2 linked regions of the Homo sapiens genome follow. The protein of the gene in region 1 interacts with the protein of each later gene in a biochemical or structural test. Each region holds a gene or a part of one and is shown on either strand. Other genes may lie near its edges. The genes, in order: UBE4B and PYCR2.

Region 1 (12,696 bases):
CTAGAATTTAGGACTGGAGGTGGATACTTACAGTATTTTTAATCAGTGCTAGGAGGTATTCATTTGAAAATTGAAGAATTATTTAAAATATATAGGTCAGGCCAGGCATGGTGGCTCACGCCTGTAATCCTAGCACTTTGGGAGGCCGAGGCAGGTGGATCGCCTGAGCTCAGGAGTTCGAGACCAGGCTGGGCAACATGGCAAAACCCCATCTCTACTCAAAATACAAAAAATTAGCTGGCGCAGAAGTGCATGCCTGTAGTCCCAGCTACTTGGGAGGCTGAGGCAGGAGAATCTCTTGAACCCGAGTGATGGAGGCTGCATTTAGCTGAGATCGCGCCACTGCACTCCAGCCTGTGCGACAGAGTGAAATTGTGTCTGGAAAAAAGAAAAAGAAAAAGAAAAAGATTATGCTTAGTAATATTTTACCTGTGCAATGCACAAAAGGATAACTATACAAGAAAGTGTAATTATATTTTACTTGTAGCCTCCCTAAAAAAATTTGGAGATTTTTCAGGACAACCAGTTATGAACTAATTTTTGGTGATTCTGGAACCTCTGTTTGTCTTTTCTTCCTCATTACAATGTTGGCATTCCCCAGCTCCACACCTGAGTGTTACTTCTCCATTTTTATCTGGCATATGAGAGCAAGTTACATCTACCTTGATTGTTGGTATTGCAGAAACCATAGAATGATCTCTTCCAGAGCTGTATTGATATCTCACAACACTCCACGGACACTTTGTCATCCAGGGCACCTGTGTTTTATACTGTGCTCTTTAAATTATTAAGGTGCTCATGGAATGAAATTAGTAGGAAAGGGAATTTTTCAAGTTTTCTAGTGGCTACATAGTATACTCCTATTACAACTTGTTGGCATTCAGATTGTCAGCTGTTGTTTACAACATTTCTATTTAATGTTATTAGCCTTGAATCCCAACCAACTCCCTAAATGTGTTGATCAGTGCTTGCATTGTGAAATTTGAAGATGAGCTAGGCTGAGTAAATCTTACATGGTGTTACCTGGTATTAATCATAAATGTATAAAAGCAGATTTGAGTTCCTTTAAGTGCCAATAGCAGGTTAATGTATTAATTACACTATATGTGGAGGTAAGGCTTTCTAACTAAAGCTTTCTTTGTAAATTTCAACATTTACCAACTAGCTCTTTGCTCTAATTTAAGTTTAATGTAGTAATAATGTTGATTGTTGGCCTGTTTATCTTGTTTTCCTCAAAATAAATGGGGAAAAGCTTTTAAAAAATATTGATAGAGGGCCAAGCGCGGTAGCTCATGCCTGTGATCCCAGCACTTTGGGAGGCTGAGGCGGGTGGATCACGAGGTCAGGAGTTCGAAACCAGCGTGGCCAACAAAGTGAAACCCCGTCTCTACTAAAAATACAAAAATTAGCCAGGTGTGGTGGCACATGCCTGTAATCCCAGCTGGCTCGGGAGGCTGAGGCAGGAGAATCACTTGAACCCCAGAGGCACAGGTTGCAGTGAGCCAAGACTGTGCCATTGCACTCCAGTCTGGGTGACAGAGCGAGACTCCGTCTCAATATAGATAGATAGATAGATAGATAGATAGATAGATAGATAGATAGATAGATAGAAAGGAGGAAATATTGGAACATTTAATTGAATTTTTTAACAGGTTATAGATGCTTGGTAATCAAGAACATATTAGTTGCTGAGATGTGCAGAATTTAATTGAGTAGAGCAACGACTCCTGGAGAGTTCTTCAACAGGCTCCAAATGTATGGGTTTTGTTGAATTACTGGGTTTTGTTGAATTACTGGGGGTCCTGTCAGAGTATTAGAGTTCACCAAACTCCTCTTACTTCTGGAGAATTCAGCTGTATTACTTTATGGTTAGACTTGTCAAAGAACAGGTCAACACTCTGGCTGAATTCTAGACTTTTATATGCAAAAAAGCTTTTCCCTGGGGAAGGAATGAAATTTGGACATTCAGTTCTAGCACCTTATTTGACATACTTCCCACTCTTAGATTCTCTTAAACTTATATTTCTGATTTTGTTTTTTTTCTTATAGATATTTATCCCCATTTTACAAGGCCTGGCTCTTGCTGCCAAAGAGTGCTCCCTCGACAGTGACTACTTTAAATACCCCCTCATGGTAAAACTTTGTTCTTTTTCTTTAACTCATTCAATAGATGTTTTTCTTTCAGATTATTTTGACATATACTTTTCTTTCAGGTCCATGAGATCAACCTTGTTTTCAAATTTAAAACATGAAATCACTGTGTTGGCCATGCAGAGTGTTTGGTGTGCAGTGAGATGCATCAGTGAAGACAGTTAGCAGCCTGGTACATCTTCCACCTATCCAAGTCCTAGACAGGAGTTAAATGCACTTATTACAATGTACTTTGTATAGCTTATGAAAAAGATAACTTATCTCCTAGCAATGAGCATACCATAGTTGGGATGAAATTTTGTTACTTAAAAAAAAAAAACCTATTAAAAATGCAAATAAAAAAGGCAAAGCTGTACATACTAAGAAAATGAATACAATTTTATCTTTATGTGTTTACTTTGTGCAGAAAATCTCAGTGTAGCTCTCTTGTTCACCCTCCCTGTTTCCTAAGGTCATATTTACTTGGGAAGTAGAAATCTGCTTAGCTCTTTAACGCACTTAGAGCAGGCATACATTGTGGACAGAAGCTTCAGCTAGATTCCCATGGGGAGGCTTGAATGTTGTGAAAATGCTGAAACTAGAATGAAAATTAGAAGCTCCTTTCTGTTCTGAATTCGCTTATTTGAAATTTTGGGAGAAAAGTATTTTGAAGTGTTACTGAATATTTTCGTTGCAGAAGTGTAAAGGAAAAAATATCAAAATGAAATTAGTTTATTCTATGTATAAATTAAGTCTTATGTAAATTGAGACCATGGTTGTTTTTCTTACTGTATTTATTTCTTTTACTTATTCCACTGATTGGATTCCATTATACCATGAATTCATTACTGACGATCTGTTCTGTGCTAGACACTGGTGATACAGAAGCTAGGAAGACAAGGTCCCTCTCCTCAAGGCACTCATAATCTACTGCAAAAATAAGAGCTACAGCGCAACAGTTGAACAGATACTGTGATAAATGTTAAAACAGAGCTGTACACAAAGGGTGTATTTATCTATTTAAAAAATTCAAACCTGTCATGGCACTAAAAGGCTACAAGAATGCTGGGAAATTAGAAGGTGAAACCAGAATTCCTACTTTAAAAAATAATTTTAAGTGGATTTATGCCAGAGCTCTTTCCATTGTACATGTTATTGGGGCTCCTGGTAAAATTATTTGAATCCTTATGTATTGTTCTCCCTGTGGCAGATAAAAGGAAGTGGAATAATCTGATTGTTTGAGTTCAGTGATGAAATATTTTAGTGAACACTAATTATCACCATATTATGTAGATGTTCCTTCATGGGACTGTTGGCTTTTGGGTTGTGGTGTGAATTAGCTTGATGTTTCAGTGAGGAGCTTTTAGCATCTGATATCACCAAAATGTCCTTTTGTTCAAAAGACAGAGGCCTCCATTGTGGTAGACAGTGATTTCATTTTGTGCCATTATTGATGCTTGCATAATAACGAGGACACAGTGAGTGAGAGGGTACAATAATGAGAGGCAGGAAGCGGAAGACTGTTGAAGCTAAAATCAGAAATCATTGTGATCATTCTCTAGGTCAGTGGATCCTGCTGTGCCATACGTTGGAATCACCTTGGAATCAGCTGGGGATCTTTAAAGGTGTTTCTGCCTGGCTCCCCACCCCAGACCTTGTGATTTAATTCACCAGGGGTGTGGCATGGCATTGGGGTTTCCAAAGGCTTCCCATGTGATCCTAATATGCAGCCACGTTTGTGAACTCCTGCACTAGGCAGTGAGAACGCTTCCTTCTGAGTTGAGGCTGCCTGAACCTCAAAGGCATCTCAACGTTGTGTCAATGCCTAAATGCACTCTTCGGCTCATGTAGCAACTTCTAGAGCTGCGTCCGAATCACAGAGGAAATTAACTGTTGAAAATAATGTTTGATTGAGTTACCATGGGCATGCTAAATTATGTTTATGTCCCTAAAAAGTGTTTTTCATCGTTCTCTAATGTTAGGATGGTTGGATGTCTGAAGGAAAGTGTTGGAATTCTTAAAAGTACTAGAAATCTTGAAACCAAGTTATGTTTTTAAATATGTTTTGAATTTGATAGCTTATTAAATTGTAATTATTTATAGTCATGTTTAACACTGGCAAGAGGAGCCATCTAAAGTTTATGAAATAAATCTTTTTGACATGGAAAGATATGAAGTGGAAAAACTTTTTTGTAAAAAACATATATAGATACAGTACACAAAAATATATCTGAAAACTGTTGCTCAAAATATCAATAGAGGTTATCTTTGAGGGTAAAGCTTGAGTAATTTTTAGTTTCATTTTATATTTCTGTTTTATTTCAAGTTTTCACATTGCATGTGTTTTAGTTTATTAATCAGAAAAAGTAGTGAAGCTGCTGCCATTTCAGAGGGAATGCATGTGTGCCATTTTAGAGGGAACGAATTTATAGCAGCAGTTAAAACTGTTTCTTTATGCTACAAATGACAGTCAGTTTAAGATGAAATGCATTTAAATGACTCTGATCTTATTTCTAGGCACTAGGTGAGCTCTGTGAAACCAAGTTTGGGAAGACACACCCTGTGTGCAATTTGGTAAGCACTCACCTGATGGGCTTGCACATTTTCAGTGAATATATCATAACCCAGAAGGCATTCCTCTAGTGAGATGGCCTGGAAAATGTCTCTTGAAGGACATTTAGGTGTAGGCGGAGGTAACGTGTCTGGGAGGCTCTCAACTGTTACATTTTTGTTAGACACGTTATATCCTGCATTACAGTTGTTCATTTCTATGATTTTTTTCCCTTTTTTTTCTAAGAATCTCACTCTGTCACCCAGGCTGGATGGAGTGCAGTGGTGGGATCTTGGCACACTGCAGCCTACGCCTCCTGGGTTCAAGTGAGTCTCGTGCCTCAGCCTCCCAAGTAGCTGGGAATACAGGCATGCATTACCATGCGAGGCTAATTTTTTTGTATTTTTAGTAGAGATGGAGTTTTACCATGTTGGCCAGGCTGGTCTCGAACTACTGACCTCAGGTGATCCACCCGCCTCAGCCTCCCAAAGTGTTGGGTTACAGGCGTGAGCCACCGCACCGGGCCTGTTTTTTTTCCCTTGACAAGTATTGTACAACTAAACTAACAAGAGGTATGGAAAAGTTATTCGAGTCCTTTGGTGGTATAAGAAGAGTTCATTTGAACTTCATCCAATAGTATCCTGAAACTTAAACATTCTTTTTTTTGAGACAGAGTCTCACTCTGTCACCCAGGCTGGAGCGCAGTGGCGCAATCTCAGCTCACTGCAACCTCTGCCTCCTGGGTTCAAGCGATTCTCTTGGCCTCAGCCTCCCCAGTAGCTGGGATTACAGGCGCACACCACCACGCCCGGCTAATTTTTGTATTTTTAGTAGAGACGGGGTTTCTCCATGTTGGCCAGGGTTGTCTCGGACTCCTGACCTCAGGTGACCCACCCCCACCCACACTGGCCTCCCAAAGTGCTGGGATTACAGGCGTGAGCCACCATGCCTGGCTGAAACATAAAAGTTTTAATAATATCTTGTGAAAATACAGAGGAGCTGGAGAGTTTTCATTACATTTTTACCCCACCGGCCTGTTCAGCGGCTTGACTGGCTCTTCCATCTTCTGCCTAGGTTGCTTCTTTGCGGTTGTGGTTGCCGAAATCCTTAAGTCCTGGCTGTGGGCGGGAGCTGCAGAGACTCTCTTACTTAGGGGCTTTCTTTAGCTTCTCAGTCTTTGCAGAAGATGATGTAAGTATAGTGGCTACTTGTACTTTGCTGCCCTTTTATTCAGATTCTTTCCCAAATGTGCATTATATGTTGACTGCATTTTTTCCTTCTCTTTCCAGGTTAAAGTGGTTGAAAAATACTTCTCAGGGCCTGCCATTACCCTGGAAAACACTCGTGTGGTTAGCCAATCATTGCAGCATTACTTAGAGCTCGGAAGGGTAAGTGTTCAGAAAACAAATCCAGAGGAAGTATCAAAGATGAGCTCCAGATACAGAGCTTTTATTTTGTAGACTGGACTATGCCCAGTAGACAAACGGCTAACAAAAGCCAATTCGATCTTACATAAAAAAGATAAACTATAAGTAAGTAGCCTGTGTCTTGAATAACAGGTTGTAACAACAGCAGTATGCTGCCTTTGTATGTAGCATCACTGGGAACTGGTCCTAAGCTTAGTGGCCCGGCTCCTCCTCCAGCTGGCCCTTAGGCATTTACACTGTGAGGGTGAGCAAGGATTGTTAGTTTGCACACACCCTCACTGACTTGCTTATCCCAAATGCAGATTAATATGTCTTCAATTCTCAAACTTAAAGGCAGAGAAGGGCCGGGTGTGATGGCTCATGCCTGTAATCCCAACACTTTGGGAGGCCGAGTGGGGTGGATCACCTGAGGTCAGGAGTTTGAGAACAGCCTGGCCAACATGACGAAACCCCGTCTCTACTAAAAATACAAAAATTAGCCAGGCATGGCAGCGCGTGCCTGTAATCCCAGCTACCTAGCTACTCGGGAGGCTGAGGCACAAGGATCACTTGAACCCAGGAGGTGGAGGTTGCAGTGAGCCAAGATCACGCCACTGCACATCAGCCTGGGCGACAGAGCAAGACTCCATCTCAAAAAAAAGAAACAGGCAAAGAAGTTACAGGCTTGGGTAACTAAGGTAATTTTGATCATGGGAAAGAAGTAACAAAGCCTATTTTATTAAAACTGTAACTGCCGGCTGGGCGTGTTGGCTAATGCCTGTAATCCCAACACTTTGGGAGGCTGAGATGGGCTGATCACGAGGTCAGGAAGTCATCCTGGCCAACATGGTGAAACCTCGTCACTGCTAAAAATACAAAAATTGGCCAAGGCAGGTGGATCACGAGGTCAGCAGTTTGAGACCAGCCTGACCAACATGGTGAAACCCCATCTCTACTAAAATACAAAAAAAATTAGCTGGGCATGGTGGCGGGTGCCTGTAATCCCAGCGACTTGGGAGGCTGAGGCAGGAGAATCGCTTGAAACCGGGAGGCGGAGGTTGCACTGAGCCGAGATGTGCCACTGCACTTTAGCCTGGGCAATAAGAGCAAAACTCCGTCTCAAAAAAAAAAACAACAAAAATGCAAAAACTAGCTGGGTGTGGCGGCGTGTGCCTGTAATCCCAACTACTCGGGAGGCTGAGGCAGGAGAATGGCTTGAACCTGGGAGGCGCAGGTTGCAGTGAGCTGAGATTGCACCACTGCACTCCAGCCTGGCAACAGAGCTAGACTCTGTCTCAAAAAAAAACAAAAAACTGTAACTGCCTACCTCCCCCACTCCATATTCTGCTTTCATGCTCATTACTTTGACATAGTTGGATGTGGATATTTCTTATATTCTTTCACTCAGGCTCTTCTAAAATGAGTAGAAGTGGGAGAGGAGAGAACGTGGGAAGTAGGCTAGCTGTTCGTGAAGTCAAAAAGGAATCATGTGCAAAATAGTTTTAATTTGTTTCTTCTTTTTAAAAATAAATTTCAGCAAGAGCTTTTTAAGATTCTGCATAGTATTTTGTTAAATGGCGAAACCCGTGAGGCTGCTCTCAGTTACATGGCGGCTGTCGTCAATGCCAATATGAAGAAAGCACAGATGCAGGTAGGATTCCTACAGACTGCTTTTCGCTGTTTGTCAAATTCATTCATCTGACCCAGATTTAGTCAGCACCTACCAGGCACTGTTCTAGGAGTGGGGGTACAGTATTGAACAAGGTAGACGAGCTTCCTGCTTTTGTGGAGCCCATGTTCCACAGAATAAACAAGTAGACATATAAATACATGATTTTAGACAGTTGTATAATCAGTGAAGAAAATAGAGCAAAGTAAATGACATGAGAAGAACTGTAGGTACCAGAAGGAAGATCTGAAGGTGATTTTTGATTGGGTGGCAGGAAAGGCCTCCCTGAGGAGGTGACATTTGTTTCATAGGAAGGAGCCAGCCATTGTAGTGGCTGAGAAAAGAGCTATCCAATGTGGAAACGAAGCAGCTTTGGTACAAGCCCAGCACGCAGGCTTTTGTGGCTGGAGAAGAGTGAACAGGAGGGAATGTCGGGTCCTGGAGTTAGTGGATAGGCAGGGCGCCATCGGGTTAGGTTTACGTGATCAGAACTGTCATGGGAGGGTTTTCAGCAGGGAAACCACAAAAGCTGCTATGTAGACGGACCAAAACAGAAGGGGGCAGCCAGGAACAGACCCAAGGGGGCAGCCAGGAACAGACCCAAGAAGGCAGCTGCAAGGGCGTGAGTGCTTCGGTCCGGGTGAGACAGGCCAGTGGCTGCAGCTGCTTTGCCAGAGGAGAAAAGGGCATCCTTCCTTGACTAGTAATAAATAATGAATGAATGATGTGATGTGTATACTCAGAAGCAAAAATCATGTAGAGAGAAGAGCACAGATCTTGTGATTTCTGATCGTGGTTCCACCGTTTACTAACTGCGGGACCTTAGACAGTGACTCCTCTGTGCCTCCATTTCCTCATCTGCTAAGCTGCGGTACTACTGGTACTGGGTTTATTATATATAAAGCTGTTAGAGTGGTGCCTGGTACACAGTGATCACTCAACCAATATTAACTATCATTCTTATCATTGTTGTATTATTATTTTTTTCTTAACAGAGGTAATCAAGTTACATTGTTATATTGCTAATGCAGGAGCATGCTGATGCTGTCACCTAGAGAAACAATGTCACATGATAAGAAGTGGAGCAACTTGTTTTGATGCTCTTGAGGGAAATAAAGAGGAGAAAGAGGCCGGGCATGGTGGCTCACGCCTGTAATCTCAGCACTTTGGGAGGCCGAGGTGGGAGGATCACTTGAGCCCAGGCATTTGAGACCAGCCCTGGCGACATAATGAGACCCCATCTCTACAAAATATACAAAAGTCATCTGGGCATGGTGGCTGGTGCATGCCTATAGTTTCAGCTACTTGGGAGGCTGAGGCAAGAGGATCACTTGAGCCAGGGAGGTCGAGACCAGCCTGGGCAACATAGGGAGACCCTGTCTCTACAAAAAAAATAAAAAATTAGCCAGTATAGTGGCATAGACCTGTAGACCCAGTTATTCAGGAGGCTGAAGTGGGAGGATCACTTAAGCCCGGGAGGTTGAGGCTGCAGTGAGCTATGTTTGCACCACTGCACTACAGCCTGGGCAACAGAGTAAAACCCTGTCTCAAAAAAAAAAAAGAAAGAAAGAAAGAAACATTTATTGTGTTTCTACTTACTAATTTTGAGCCTCAGGCAAATCACTTCAGGGTCTCTGAGTCTTTATTTCCTCCTGCATAAAATGTTAACAGCAGTATTACTGACCTGTAAGAATTATCGTGATGGTTCAGTAAAAGAATGTATAAAATGGCCAAGCGTGGTGGCTCATGCCTGTAATCCCAGCAATTTGGGAGGCCGAGACGGGCGTATCACCTGAGGTCAGGAGTTCGAGACCAGCCTGGCCAATATGGTGAAACCCCATCTCTACTAAAAATACAAAAAATTTGCCGGGCGTGGTGGCGGGTGCCTGTAATCCCAGCTACTCGGGAGGCTGAGGCAAGAGAATCACTTGAACCCGGGAGGCGGAGGTTGTAGTGAGCGAGGATCGTGCCACTGCATTCTAGCCTGGGCAACAAGAGTGGAACTCCATCTCAAAAAAAAGAAAAGAAAAGAAAAGAATGTATAAAATGCCTCTTATATAAATAATAATTATATAATAGGCGGTATTCAACAAGTAGCACCTGCTAATATAGAATTAATGGAATGACAGTGGTGATGAGATATATGTCTTCTCATTGACTTTAGGATACAGTTATGTTTGAAAGTTCAGTCTGCTTTCTTACAAAGTTTGCCAAAATTTCTATTCATGTTATTTTAAATACTTTTTCTTGGCTGGTCACAGTGGCTCACACCTGTAATCCCAGCACTTTGGGAAGCTGAGGTGGGCGGATCACTTTAGGTCCCAGCTACTTGGGAGGCTAAGGTGGGAGGATTGCTTGAGCCTGGGAGGTGGAGGTTGCAGCCAAGATCACACCCCTTCGCTCCAGCCTGGGCAACAGAGTGAGACCCCATCTCAAAAAAAATTTTTTTTAATGTTTAAAAATACTTTTTCTTTTCAACTTTCACAGACAGATGATAGATTGGTGTCTACAGATGGATTTATGCTGAATTTCCTTTGGGTACTGCAGCAGCTAAGTACAAAAATCAAGTTAGAAACAGTTGATCCCACGTATATTTTTCACCCAAGATGTCGGATTACTCTTCCCAATGATGAGACGCGTGTGAATGCAACGATGGAAGATGTGAATGACTGGCTGACTGAACTCTGTGAGTACTGTGTTCGTGACTCGGTCATTAAAACACTGCCCTCTTGTCTGTGTGCTAGTAGTTCCTCACAGATTGTTACCACCTCACCATAAAATGAACTTAAGAGATAGAGAAACATAATAAAAATTAATACAGTAGGCCTGGCGTGGTGACTCATACCTATAATCCCAGCACTTTGGGAGGCCGAGGCAGGTGGATCACGAGGTCAGGAGTTCAAGACCAGCCTGACCACCGTGGTGAAACCCCGTCTCTACTAAAAATACAAAAATTAGCTGGGCATGGTGGCACACGCCTGTAATCCCAGCACTTTGGGAGGCTGAGGTGGGCAGATCAAAAGGTCCGGAGTTCATGACCAGCCTGATCACCATGGTGAAACCCCATCTCTACTAAAAATACAAAAATTAGCGGGTGTGGTGGCACGCACCTGTAATCCCAGCTACTCAGGAGGCTGAGGCAGGAGAATTGTGTGAACCCAGGAGGCTGAGCTTGCAGTGAGCCATGATCACGGCACTGCACTCCAGCCTGGGCAACAGAGTGAGACTCTGTCTCAAAAAAAAAAAAAAAACAGATACAAATTGAAAAAAAAAATCAAGTTATCATAATATATCTATAAAAAAGCCAAAACCAAAGTGATAAAATAGAATGTAAGTTTTTGAAGAAGTAGGTGATATTTAATCAATTTATTTAACCTATCTGAAGTGAATTCTGGTGATTCATAGCAAAAAATATAATACTGTTGTTCTCAATAATTCTACTTTTCAGGTTATATTCCCAAAGTTGGAGGAAAAAGGAATAATTTTGTTTACATAAATCCTCCCAGTAGTAACATTATTTATAATAGAAAAAAATTAGAAAAAAGAAATATGCAGGGAAACGGCTCTGGAATCAGTAGTTTATTAACATAATTTAATACCATTTCGAGATTTAAATATTTCTGTATTGTGTTGAAAAATGGAGATTTTATACAATACATCAGTAAGGAACATCACCAAAGATTGTTGATGGGCTGGGAATGGTGGCTCACATCCATAATCCCAGCACTTTTGGAAGCTGAGGTGGGAGGAGAGCTTGAGCCCAGGAGTTCAAGACCAGCCTGGGCAAAATAAGGAAACCCCATGTCTACAAAGAAAAAAATTAGCCCAGCATGGTGGCACATGCCTGTGTTCCCAGCCACCCAGGAGACTGAGGCAGGAGGATTGCCTGAGCCCAGGAAATTGAGGCTGCAGTGATCTGTGATCTTACCACTGCACTGCACTGCAGCCTAGGTGACACTAGGTGACAGAGTAAGACCCTCTTAAAAAAAAAAAAAAAAAAAGATTGTGATGGACATCTGTATGCACATTTAACGAGGTAGGACAGAATACGGTGGTCCTTGAATGGAGCTAACAGGAATTCTCTTCTTCTTGTAGTATTGTTTAAGTTTATAATTGCAAAAGTATCCTTAAACTTCTGGCGGGGCATGGTGGCTCACGCCTGTAATCCCAGCACTTTGGGAGGCCAAGGAGGGTAGATTGCCTGAGGTCAGGAGTTCGAGACCAGTCTGAGCAACATGGTGAAACCTCGTCTCTCCTAAAAATGCAAAAGTAGCCAGGTGTGGTAGCACACGCCTGTAATCCCAGCTTACTAGGGAGGCTGAGGCAGGAGAATCACTTGAACCTGGGAGGCGGAATTTGCAGTAAGCCAAGATCGTGCCATTGCACTTCTGCCTGGGTGACGAGAGCAAAAGTCCATCTCAAATAAATAAATAAATAAATAAACAAATAAAAAGTATCTTTAAACTTCATAAAAATTCAAATGTAATTTTCTCTTCTGAATTCAGCTTTTTCTCTGATTGAGACATGTAATAGATTTTATTTAGGGAATGATGTTATTTTTCCTAGATGGCGATCAGCCTCCATTTTCTGAGCCGAAATTCCCTACGGAGTGCTTCTTTCTCACCCTGCATGCTCACCACCTCTCTATTCTGCCTAGTTGCCGTCGCTATATCCGCAGACTCCGGGCTATCCGGGAGCTCAATAGGTATGTGCCATGATACCGTGTCCTGGGATTGCCTGAGTTACCACTTTTTCTCAGGGGCAGGCAATTCCATTGTGAACAGTAGTTTTGAATGTTGGGGGAGGTATGTACGTTATATAGTGTTCTGTCTGCCTCCACCGCCACATCCATGTTGCTCAGTTGTCCAGAGTTCTTTACCTGGTGAAGTGATCCAAACCTTGATTTCTGAGAGTTCTGAACCCTGGATATTTCACTCTGT
Region 2 (9,696 bases), about 220 Mb from region 1:
AGCGGAAGCCCCCACTCTCTAGAAAGTGCAGGGCGTGGATGGTGGCTCCCCCAGGGGAGCAGACATTGTCCTTAAGCTGGCATGGATGCTGCTCCGAGTCCAGCAGCATCTTGGCAGCTCCCTATGGGGAAGGGCACATTAGGAGAAAGTTGCTGGTGTGCGTTGGAACAGGCTTCCCATACCCACTGCTCCTGCCCAACTGCTACCCCAGCTTCCCAACCAACTCCCACCTCAGTTCAGTGATGCACAAGAACCCCCATTCTACACCCTGGTCCTGAACATGCGGGGGAAAGATACTGACCAGCAAAGCCTGGGCCCCGAGTTGGATTGCCAGGCGCCGTGGCAAACCCATCTTCACCCCACCATCAGCCAATGCGTCCAGAGCCATGAATGCCTGTGGAGACACTCACTAAGCCCCAGGCCATAGGCACTGAAGGGCCTTTCCTTAGGTCTGCTTTCTGATGACTAGAACTAGCTCCAAGGGTCAGCATCCTGTACCAGCCAGCTGTGCCCAAGAGGTGGGCGCCACCCCCAGTCCAAGCCTGCCTGCCAGCCCATCTTGCTGCCTGGGTTCCTAGAAGGCTGAGCGAGCAAATGAGGGCCTCACATAGGCAGGCCCGCTGCCACTGAGCCCCGTGACGGCATCGATGAGGTCCTCTTCCACCTCAGTGCAGAAGCCCACGCTGCTCATGAGCTGCTCCAGGAGCTGCCCATCCTCCACCAGGGCATGGGTGCCCGTGGCGTACACTGTAGCGCCTTCCTGCACTACCACAGGTGTGTTGGTCATGCAGCGAATCACTTTGGGGGCTGGCTGGAATGCCATCAGCTTCTAGGGTGAGGGAGAGAGCCGAATGAGTGGCCAGGGCACGGCTCCCACCAGCACCCACCCATTAGCTGCCATTCGTGGGTCAACCCTCCCCTCACACAAGGGGCATCAGGGCTGAGATGGGCACCTTCTCCACAGAGCTGATGGTGACACCAGCCGCACAGGAGACCACGATGTGTCTGGCTTGCACGTCGGCCCCAATCTCATCCAGGATGAAGGGGATGATATGTGGCTTCACAGCCAGAAACAGGACGTCGCTGTGCTTCACCGTCTCCTTGTTGCTGCGTGTCAGGTTCACACCCATCTTCTGCAAGAGGAGACTCCCAGCTCACAGTGCTGGAGCAGCCTGGCTATGCCAAGGCCTCCCAGGGAGCAGCTGAACCCCTGCCAAACCGATTCTGCCAGATGCAGCCTGGAATTCTTAGCTTTATGCCCTCAGGGTTCTACCCCTACCCCAAATAATACAGTTTCCCATTGTTGCTACTGGACAAGTAAGCACAGGCTTGGAGCATGACAAGCTTCTCCATGGTAACCAGGAAGTGGCTGCCCTTCTTCCCTGCCAATCTTCTGGTATCTAAGGCACTCCTCTGCCAGGTAAGAAGGCCCTATGGTGAAAGTGGCAGGGCAAAGGGAAATGCTAATACCTGGTCGTTAAAAGCACAGCTGAGTCAGGCCCTATCCTAACCCTGGCCGCTTGTTCGTGGGGACCGCACAGTCTCCATGTGGTCCAGGGCTAGGCTGGAAGCCATCCATCCCTCTATGACTCCAAACTGAGAAGCAGGACCCTCCAGTGCTAGGGACATCAGCCCACCCTAGGCACAGACACTGCCTGTCACCTGCCTCATCAGCCATCCTCTCCCACAGAGCACAGGTTTTGGGTGAAGACTTGGAATATGTTTTTGGAGAACAGAACAACTAACTCACCAGATTCTTCCCAATATGCTCATTCACGACTCAGAATAACAGCAAAGTGGCCACTGTTGTAAATGAGGAAATAGCCTCAAAGTGGCTGAGTACTTTAAGGTCATACAACTCGTCTATTAAGAAAAATGGCTGAGCGCAGTGGCTCACCCCTGTAATCCCAGCACTTTGGGAGGCCAAGGCGGGCAGATCACTTGAGGCCAGGAGTTCGAGACCAGCCTGGCCAACAGTATTCTCTACCAAAAATACAAAAATTAGCTGCGCGTGGTGGATGCCTGTAATTCCAGCTACTCGGGAGGCTGAGGTGGGAGGCTGAGGTGGGAGGCGGAGGTTACAGTGAGCTGAGATCGCGCCACTGCACTCCAGCTTGGGCGACAGAGTAAGACCCTGTCTGAAAAAAAATTTAAAAAATGAGTATTTATTAGGTACCTACTATGTGCCAGGTGCTTTCATCACATAATCACCTCAGTTAATCCTCTACCACTCCAGTGTCTGGATCTGACCCCCAGTTATGTCTCCCTGGGTGTTCCCACCACATTGAGCTGCCCAAGAGAAGGTGGAAAGATTGTCACGTTCCTGGAGTAAAGGTCACCGCCGGCCAAAGACCAGCACTTGGGCGCAGGGGCCGGCCAGACTCACTTCATCTCAGGTCATCCTTTTCCTGGGCCTCCACCCGCTTCCCACTCCGCCCGGCTCCACCTACCCTGAGCGCGGACACCGTGGGCAGGTTCATTTCTGGGGAGCTGGCTATTATCTTGTGAGCCGACAGGATGCCTGCAGAAGACAGAGCTTTTCAACTAGGGGTCGCGGCCCAGCCCGTTACCACGCTTTCCCTGGCTCTAAAACCCAGAGCCGTCCTAACAGTGCCAGTCTCCCTCTCCCCCTCAACCCTCTACGAGGACAGAAGACGCACTTGCTGCTCAACCAGAGTCTCATCTACCCCACCGGACGCAAACTCCCCTTTCATTCGCTCATGCTGGTGGGACGGAGGCCCCCTCGGGCCTCGGGACCGCCCGCGAAGCCGCCTCCCGCCTCCACGCGCTTGCCTGCGGCCGTGAAGCCCCGCGCCAGAGCATAGGCCAGCTGGCCGGCCCCGATGAAGCCCACGCTCATGGTCCGCGGTTCACGCCTCCTGGGAGCCGCACGAACCCCCTCAGCGAGGGACCGGAAGTAACGCTAGGGGAAGGGCGGACAGCGCAGGGGCGAACGGGCGGCGTGCCGAGGACCGGCGAGCTAACAGCAGCTTCTGGGATGGTGCAACCCTATTCTCCCCCGGCGGATATCTCCCGGGCGGCTGATGGCGCCTTAGGCCACGTGGCCCCGCCCCGTCCGGGCGACCAATCAGTGGCCAGGATCTCGGGGCAGGCCAATCCGCGGCCCGAGCCAGGCCGCGTGCCCGCCTCCTCCGCTCGCGACTGGAGGGCGGAACTCCGGGCTGGAGTCCCGGAAGCCCCTGTGGCAGCTTGGCGTGAGCTCCAGGCGCCCGCCGGCCCAGGACGCCCGGCCGCCCCCACCCCCCCCCCCCACCCCAAGGCTGAGGTCGCCGTCCCTAAGCCACCTCGGGCTCAGGGCTGAGGCCTGGCCCAGGCCTGGCTAATATTATTTCTGGCGCTGGCCATCAGATGCCCCTCAAGGCCCACAGGAATTCTCCAGGTTGCCGATTTGCGGGGATGAACGAGGCCCTCCTGGCGTAGGTTCAGACCAGGTGGCGGCGAGGTTCAGACCAGGTGGCGGCGAGGCGGCACCAGGGTGGTCAGCCGCGGCTTATTCACTTGAACTTGAGTGTTTCTCGCGAATTTGTCCAAACTAGATACAAGAAGGACAAGTTCGAGTCTCCGACTCTTCCGCGATCCCGCACCCCCCAGCCCCTTGCTGTCACTTGCCTTTTTTTTTTTGAGACGGAGTTTCACTCTTGTTGCCCAGGATGGAGTGCAGTGGCACGATCTCGGCTCACTGCAATCTCCGCCTCCCGGGTTCAAGCGATTCTCCTGCCTCAGCCTCCCCAGTAGCTGGGATTACAGGCGCCCGCTACCACGACCGGATAATTTTTGTATTTTTAGTAGAGACGGGGTTTCACCATGTTGTTCAGGCTGGTCTTCAACTCCTGACATCAGGTTATCCGCCCGCCTCGGCCTCCCAAAGTGCTGGGATTATAAGCGTGAGCCACCGCGCCCGACCTGTCTCTTGCTTTTAAAAGCTCCACCAATGTGATGTTTCCTTTTCTATCAGTAGTAAATATAAGGGGCCGCAGGGAACAAATGACAGAAGTAGAGAGGAAGAAGGTGGCGTTCCTAGAGGACTCAGAAGAGCTGAGGACCCTTAGTTCCCATGGTCTCTCTGCTAGCTTTTCTAGTCCTTTCCGTGTAATGCACACCCCCACTCCCAGGCAAGGGGCTGCTTTCTGTGAACTTCCCTGAGCAAGTCCCCAGGCCCTCAGTTTGTGCACCCTTTAAAGTGAGGACCAAATATAATATTTACTATTAAGCAAAATAATGCTATGTTTTATTTATTTATTTATTTATTTATTTATTGAGACAGAGTTTCGCTCTTGTTGCCCAGGCTGGAGTGCAATGGCACGATCTCGGCTCACTGCAACCTCCACCTCCCGGGTTCAAGCGATTCTCCTGCTTCAGCCTCCTGAGTAGCTGGGATTACAGGCATGCGCCACCACGCCCGGCTAATTTTTTGTATTTTTAGTAGAGACAGGGTTTCTCCATGTTGGTCAGGCTGATCTTGAACTCCCGACCTGAGGTGATCTGCCTGTCTCAGCCTCCCAAAGTGCTGGGATTACAGGCGTGAGCCACAGCACCTGGCCTCTGTATTTTTTAAATTCGAAAAGTAATACAGACATATTGAAGAAAGTTTGGAGATAAAAGTAAAAATAAAATCATCCACATCATACTTCCCAAAGATAGTTTCTTACAAACATTTTTGGTGTATTTCCTTACACTATCATGTCCTATGCATATCTACTTTCTCCATCATTGGAAATAAATGATGTACATGTAGTTTTGAAATTTCTCTAGTAGACATGAGCATTTTCCAATGTCACTGAAAAGTTATTTAAGACAGTTTTAATGACTACTTATTATATGTATGTACCTTACTGATTTAACCATTCAAAGGTCAATGTTAGGTTTATTGATTTATATAATAGATAACTTACTGAGCCAGGTTCTGGGAGTATAGCTATGAACAAAACAGACAAGTTCCTGTCCTCATAAAACATCAATTTATTATTATTTCTTATTTTTATTTATTTATTTATTTTTGAGACGGAGTCTTTGTTACCCAGGCTGGAGTGAAGTGGCATGATCTCGGCTCACTGCAACCTCCATCTCCCGGGTTCAAGCGATTCTCCTGTCTCAGCCTTCCGAGTACCTGGGATTACAGGCATGTGTCACCACGCCTGGCCAATTTTTGTATTTTTAGTAGAGATGGGGTTTCACCATGTTGGCCAGGCTGGTCTCCAACTCCTGACCTCAGGTGATCCACCCGCCTCAGCCTCCCAAAGTGCTGGGATCACAGACATGAGCCACCACTCCTGGCCTTCAATTTTTTAAATTTTTGTTCATATTATTGTGATAAAATCTTTGCCTGACTCATTATTTTCTTAACATGACTCCCAGAAGTGAGATTTGTAAGGTCCAGTGGTTTGGGGCTTTAAGAGCTCCCATAGCTGCCATGTTGCAGCATAGCCTAATGGTTACCAGCGTAAAGCTCTGAAACCAGAAACCCAGCAGAAACCAAACTGGCTGAAGGAAAAGGGGGGCTTCTGTACAGCGCTTGGGAGAGGCACAGGGGAGCTCACAGACCAGAAGGGGCACCTACAGAGAGCAGGACCTCAGGAATGGAACTAGAACACTGCGCTGCCAGCACTTCCCCTCTTCTCTTTGTCTCATTTCTGTTTGCCTGCATTTGGCCTCCCTTTTGTTGTAGAGGAGTCTTTGTCAGGTAGTGAGGAAGTTGGGGGTTTACCCTCCTTCACAACTTCCTAATGCTGCCTGCTCCTCTGCAGGATACTCACCCTCCCCATAGTCCACCAGGGCACTGCAGGGCCCTTTGCTTTTCCTGGCTGTGGTCTGTTGTGGGGAGCTCTGGATCTGACCTGCAATACAGGAGGTTGTGCTGAAGCTGAATGTGTGTTTTGGAGTGAGGTGTGGGGGACACTTGTGTCTCACTCCTTTCTGACCCCTTACATACACCCATCCCTTACCTGGTTGCCTTGCGTTGATATCTCCCGTTTCCGCTTCCGGGAGCCAGGGTGAAATGGGAGAACTGCAAAAGCCTAAGAAAGGATGGCCGGGTGCGGTGGCTCACACCTGTAATCCCAGAACTTTGGGAGGCTGAGGCGAATGGACCACCTGAGGTCAGGAGTTCGAGACCAGCCTGGCCAACATGGTGAAACCCCATCTCTACTAAAAATACAAAAAATTAGCCGGATGTGGTGGCGGGCACCTATAATCTCAGCTACTCAGGAGGCTGAGACAGGGGAATTGCTTGAACCTGGGAGGTGGAGATTGCAGTGAGCCAAGATTGTGCCACTGCACTCCAGGCTGAGTGACAGTGTGAGACTCTGTCTAAAAAAAAAAAAAAAAAAAAAAAAGAGGCCATGTTGGTGACCCCCAGTGTTGGCTTCATCCCCAGCCAGGACTGGCCACATAAGACACGGAGTAGCAAAAGCACTTGCTCCCCTCAGTTTGGACTTAGGGCAGCAAGTGAGCCACTGACCACAAACTGTTCTTTTTTGTGGTAGTTTTGATCTATTATTTTTTCATCTCCAAAGTTTAAAGTTTATATATACAAAATCTATTATATTTTATTTTTTAAAAATATAAGATGGAAATAAAAAAGAGCAAAAGAGAAAAGAAAACAACAAAAAATAAAAACAAAGTAAGAAAACAAAAAAAACCCAAATATATGTATATATAAAATATATATATAAAATAGAGACGGGGTCTCACTATGTTAGTCTAGGTTGATCTTGAACTCTTGACCTCAAGCAATCCTCCCTCCTTGGCCTCCCAGTGTTAGGATTACAGGCATGAGCCACCGCACCCAGCCTGTTACCTATTTTAAATATAGGTAAGACCATTTTATTCTCTTTTAATGACCTTGCTGACTCTAACGTCCCATTTCCTTGGTGCTGTGGCCACTGCCTTGGTTTCTAAGGCAGTCACATCTGATGCCTGTGGAGTTCCTCTGAACTGAAGTTGAGGAGAGGAGAGGGGAAGCCCTTCGTTCCCATCCAGCCACCCTAAAGGACACCCCAGCCTTGCACTGCCATCCTGCCATGGGACATGCTCAGTCCCTGCTGGCACTTGTCTCCTTGGGCACCCACTATCCTTTTGCTGTCTCGGAGCAGACACGTCCACAAAGCTGCCAGGACTGCCCACCTTCACCCCTCTACTCCCATCCTCTCATCCACCAGTCAGGTTCTGCTGTTTGTACCCTTCCTCCCTCTTCACTCCCCTCTGTCCTGCCTGATGGCCCTCTCCAGCTGTCTCAGACAAAATGGATACTGCTTCACTTCTGTCTACTTCTGCTTCTTCACTATCAGGGCCTCAGGGCCTCCCTCTAAACAGCAGGCCAGTCTCTCCTATCTCTAAACAGCAGGCCAGTCTCTCCTAAGAACTGAGATGACCTAGGAAATGAGAGAGAAGCCTGTGCTGCTCCCAGATAAACAGATGGCAAGTGCCTTGGCCCTCAATCCTCCCTGTCCTAGGAGCCTCTCCAAAGAGGCGCATTTTTGAGTGCATTTTTGCATTCTTTTTGTTATTGCATAAATAATCCATGTTTATTTTAGAAAAATTAGAAATGAGATCAAATGGAAGGCTGGGTGCAGTGGCTCATTCCTGTAATCCCAGCACTTTGGGAGAACAAGGCAGGCGATCATTTGAAAACAGGAGTTCCAAACCAGCCTAGCCAACGTGGCAAAACCCTGTCTACTAAAAATACAAAAATTAGCCGGGCATCATGGCCTGCGCTTGTACTCCCAGCTACTCTGGTGGCGGATGCACAAGAATCGCTTGAACCCAGGAAGCGGTGGTTACAGTGAGCTGAGATCGTGCCACTGCACTTCAGCCTGGGCGACAGAGTGACACTCTGCCTCGAAAAAACAAAAAAGAAAGAGAACAAATGGAAAAACATTGTTTTCAATTCCACCACACAAAGATTTAGAACAAATGTGACCCTTTTGGAGAATAACTCTCTTCACTTCTTTTTCCCATGCAATAAGCACATTAAAACTTGATTTTGGCCGGGCGCAGTGGCTCATGCCTGTAATTCCAACACTTTGGAAGGCTGAGACAGGAGGATCACTTGAGCTCAGGAGTTTGAGACCATCCTGGGCAACATGGCAAAACCCTGTCTCTACCAAAAAATAAAAAAATAAAAATAAATAAATAATAAAAATAAAAAATTAGCCGAGTGTGGTGGTTCGTGCCTGTAGGCCCAACTACTCAGGAAGCTGAGGTGGCAGGATCACTTGAGCCTGGGAGGTGGAGGTTACAGTGAGCTAAGATCCTGCTACTGCACTCCAGCCTGAGCAAAAGGGTGAGACCCTGTCTCAAAAAAAAAAAGAAAAAGAAAAGAAAGAAAAAAAAGCAAACTATCGCAAGAACAAAAAACCAAACACCGCATGTTCTCACTCATAGGTGGCAATTGAACAATGAGAACACTTGGACACAGGAAGGGGAACATCACACACCAGGGCTTGTTGTGGGGTAGGGGGAGGGGGGAGGGATAGCATTAGGAGATATACCTAATGTAAATGATGACTTAATGGGTGCAGCACACCAACATGGCACATGTATACATATGTAACAAACCTGTACGTTGTGCACAAGTACCCTAGAACTTAAAGTATAATTAAAAAAAAAAGAAAGATAAGAAAAACTTTTTTTTTTTTTTGAGACGGAGTCTAGCTTTGTCACCCAGGCTGGAGTACAGTGGTGCAATCTCAGCACACTGCAACCTCTGCCTCCCAGGTTCAAGTAATTCTCCTGCCCCAGCCTCCTGAGGAGCTGGGACTACAGGTGTGCACCACCACACCCAGCTAATTTTTGTATTTTTAGTAGAGACGGGGTTTCACCGTGTTGGCCAAGCTGGTCTCGAACCCCTGACCTCAGGTGATCCACCCACCTTGGCCTCCCAAAGTGCTGGGATTACAAGCGTGAGCCACCATACCTGGCCAAAACCTTGATTTTTTTTTTTTTTTTTTTTTTGAGACAGAGTCTCGCTCTGTCGCCCCAGGCTGGAGTGCAGTGGCGGGATCTCAGCTCACTGCAAGCTCCGCCTCCCGGGTTCACACCATCCTCCTGCCTCAGCCTCCCGAGTAGCTGGGACTACAGGTGCCCACCACCACGCCTGGCTAATTTTTTTTGTTGTTTTGTTTTTTTTTTTTTTTAGTAGAGACAGAGTTTCACCATGTTAGCCAGGATGGTCTCCATCTCCTGACCTCGTGATCCACCCACCTCGGCCTCCCAAAGTGCTGGGATTACAGGCGTGAGCCATCGTGCCCAGCCAAAACCTTGGTTTTTAAAATAAGTATTTACTCATGCTGCATGGAAACAGGTGATATGCAAAAACCAAAATAATTTTGTTTTAGGATGGTGGGATTATGGGTGGTTTGCAATACATTAAAAATTATCTTTAATGTTATTTATTTATTTATTTATTTATTTATTTTTTGAGACAAGTTCTTGCTGTGTCACCCAGGCTAAAGTGTAGTGGCATCATCACAGCTCACTGCAGCCTCAACTTCCCAGGCTCAAACACTCCTCCCACTTCTGCCTGCCAAGTAGCTGGAACTACAACCACTACTCCTGGCTAATTTTTTGTATTTTTTAAAGTATAGATGATGGGGATGGTCTCACTATGTTGTACAGTTTGGTTTTGAACTCGCAGGCTCAAGCAATCTGCCTGCCTTGGCCTCCCAAAGCGCTGGC

What was found.
Region 2: of the proteins of UBE4B (region 1) and PYCR2, one has a biochemical effect on the other in vitro, tested with the Homo sapiens proteins (one study listed by BioGRID).

The regions. Positions count from the first base shown.
Region 1 is NC_000001.11:10,124,745-10,137,440, forward strand, and holds part of UBE4B (ubiquitin conjugation factor E4 B), read left to right. Parts: intron 1-2,049; coding exon 2,050-2,133; intron 2,134-4,647; coding exon 4,648-4,704; intron 4,705-5,755; coding exon 5,756-5,872; intron 5,873-5,970; coding exon 5,971-6,069; intron 6,070-7,624; coding exon 7,625-7,738; intron 7,739-10,243; coding exon 10,244-10,442; intron 10,443-12,322; coding exon 12,323-12,461; intron 12,462-12,696. UniProt on the Homo sapiens protein: Ubiquitin-protein ligase that probably functions as an E3 ligase in conjunction with specific E1 and E2 ligases. May also function as an E4 ligase mediating the assembly of polyubiquitin chains on substrates ubiquitinated by another E3 ubiquitin ligase.
Region 2 is NC_000001.11:225,921,251-225,930,946, forward strand, and holds the start of PYCR2 (pyrroline-5-carboxylate reductase 2), read right to left. Parts: upstream 3,001-9,696; 5' UTR 2,861-3,000; coding exon 2,794-2,860; intron 2,522-2,793; coding exon 2,451-2,521; intron 1,134-2,450; coding exon 954-1,133; intron 893-953; exon of another isoform or gene 830-892; coding exon 608-829; intron 395-607; coding exon 302-394; intron 122-301; coding exon 1-121. UniProt on the Homo sapiens protein: Oxidoreductase that catalyzes the last step in proline biosynthesis, which corresponds to the reduction of pyrroline-5-carboxylate to L-proline using NAD(P)H. At physiologic concentrations, has higher specific activity in the presence of NADH.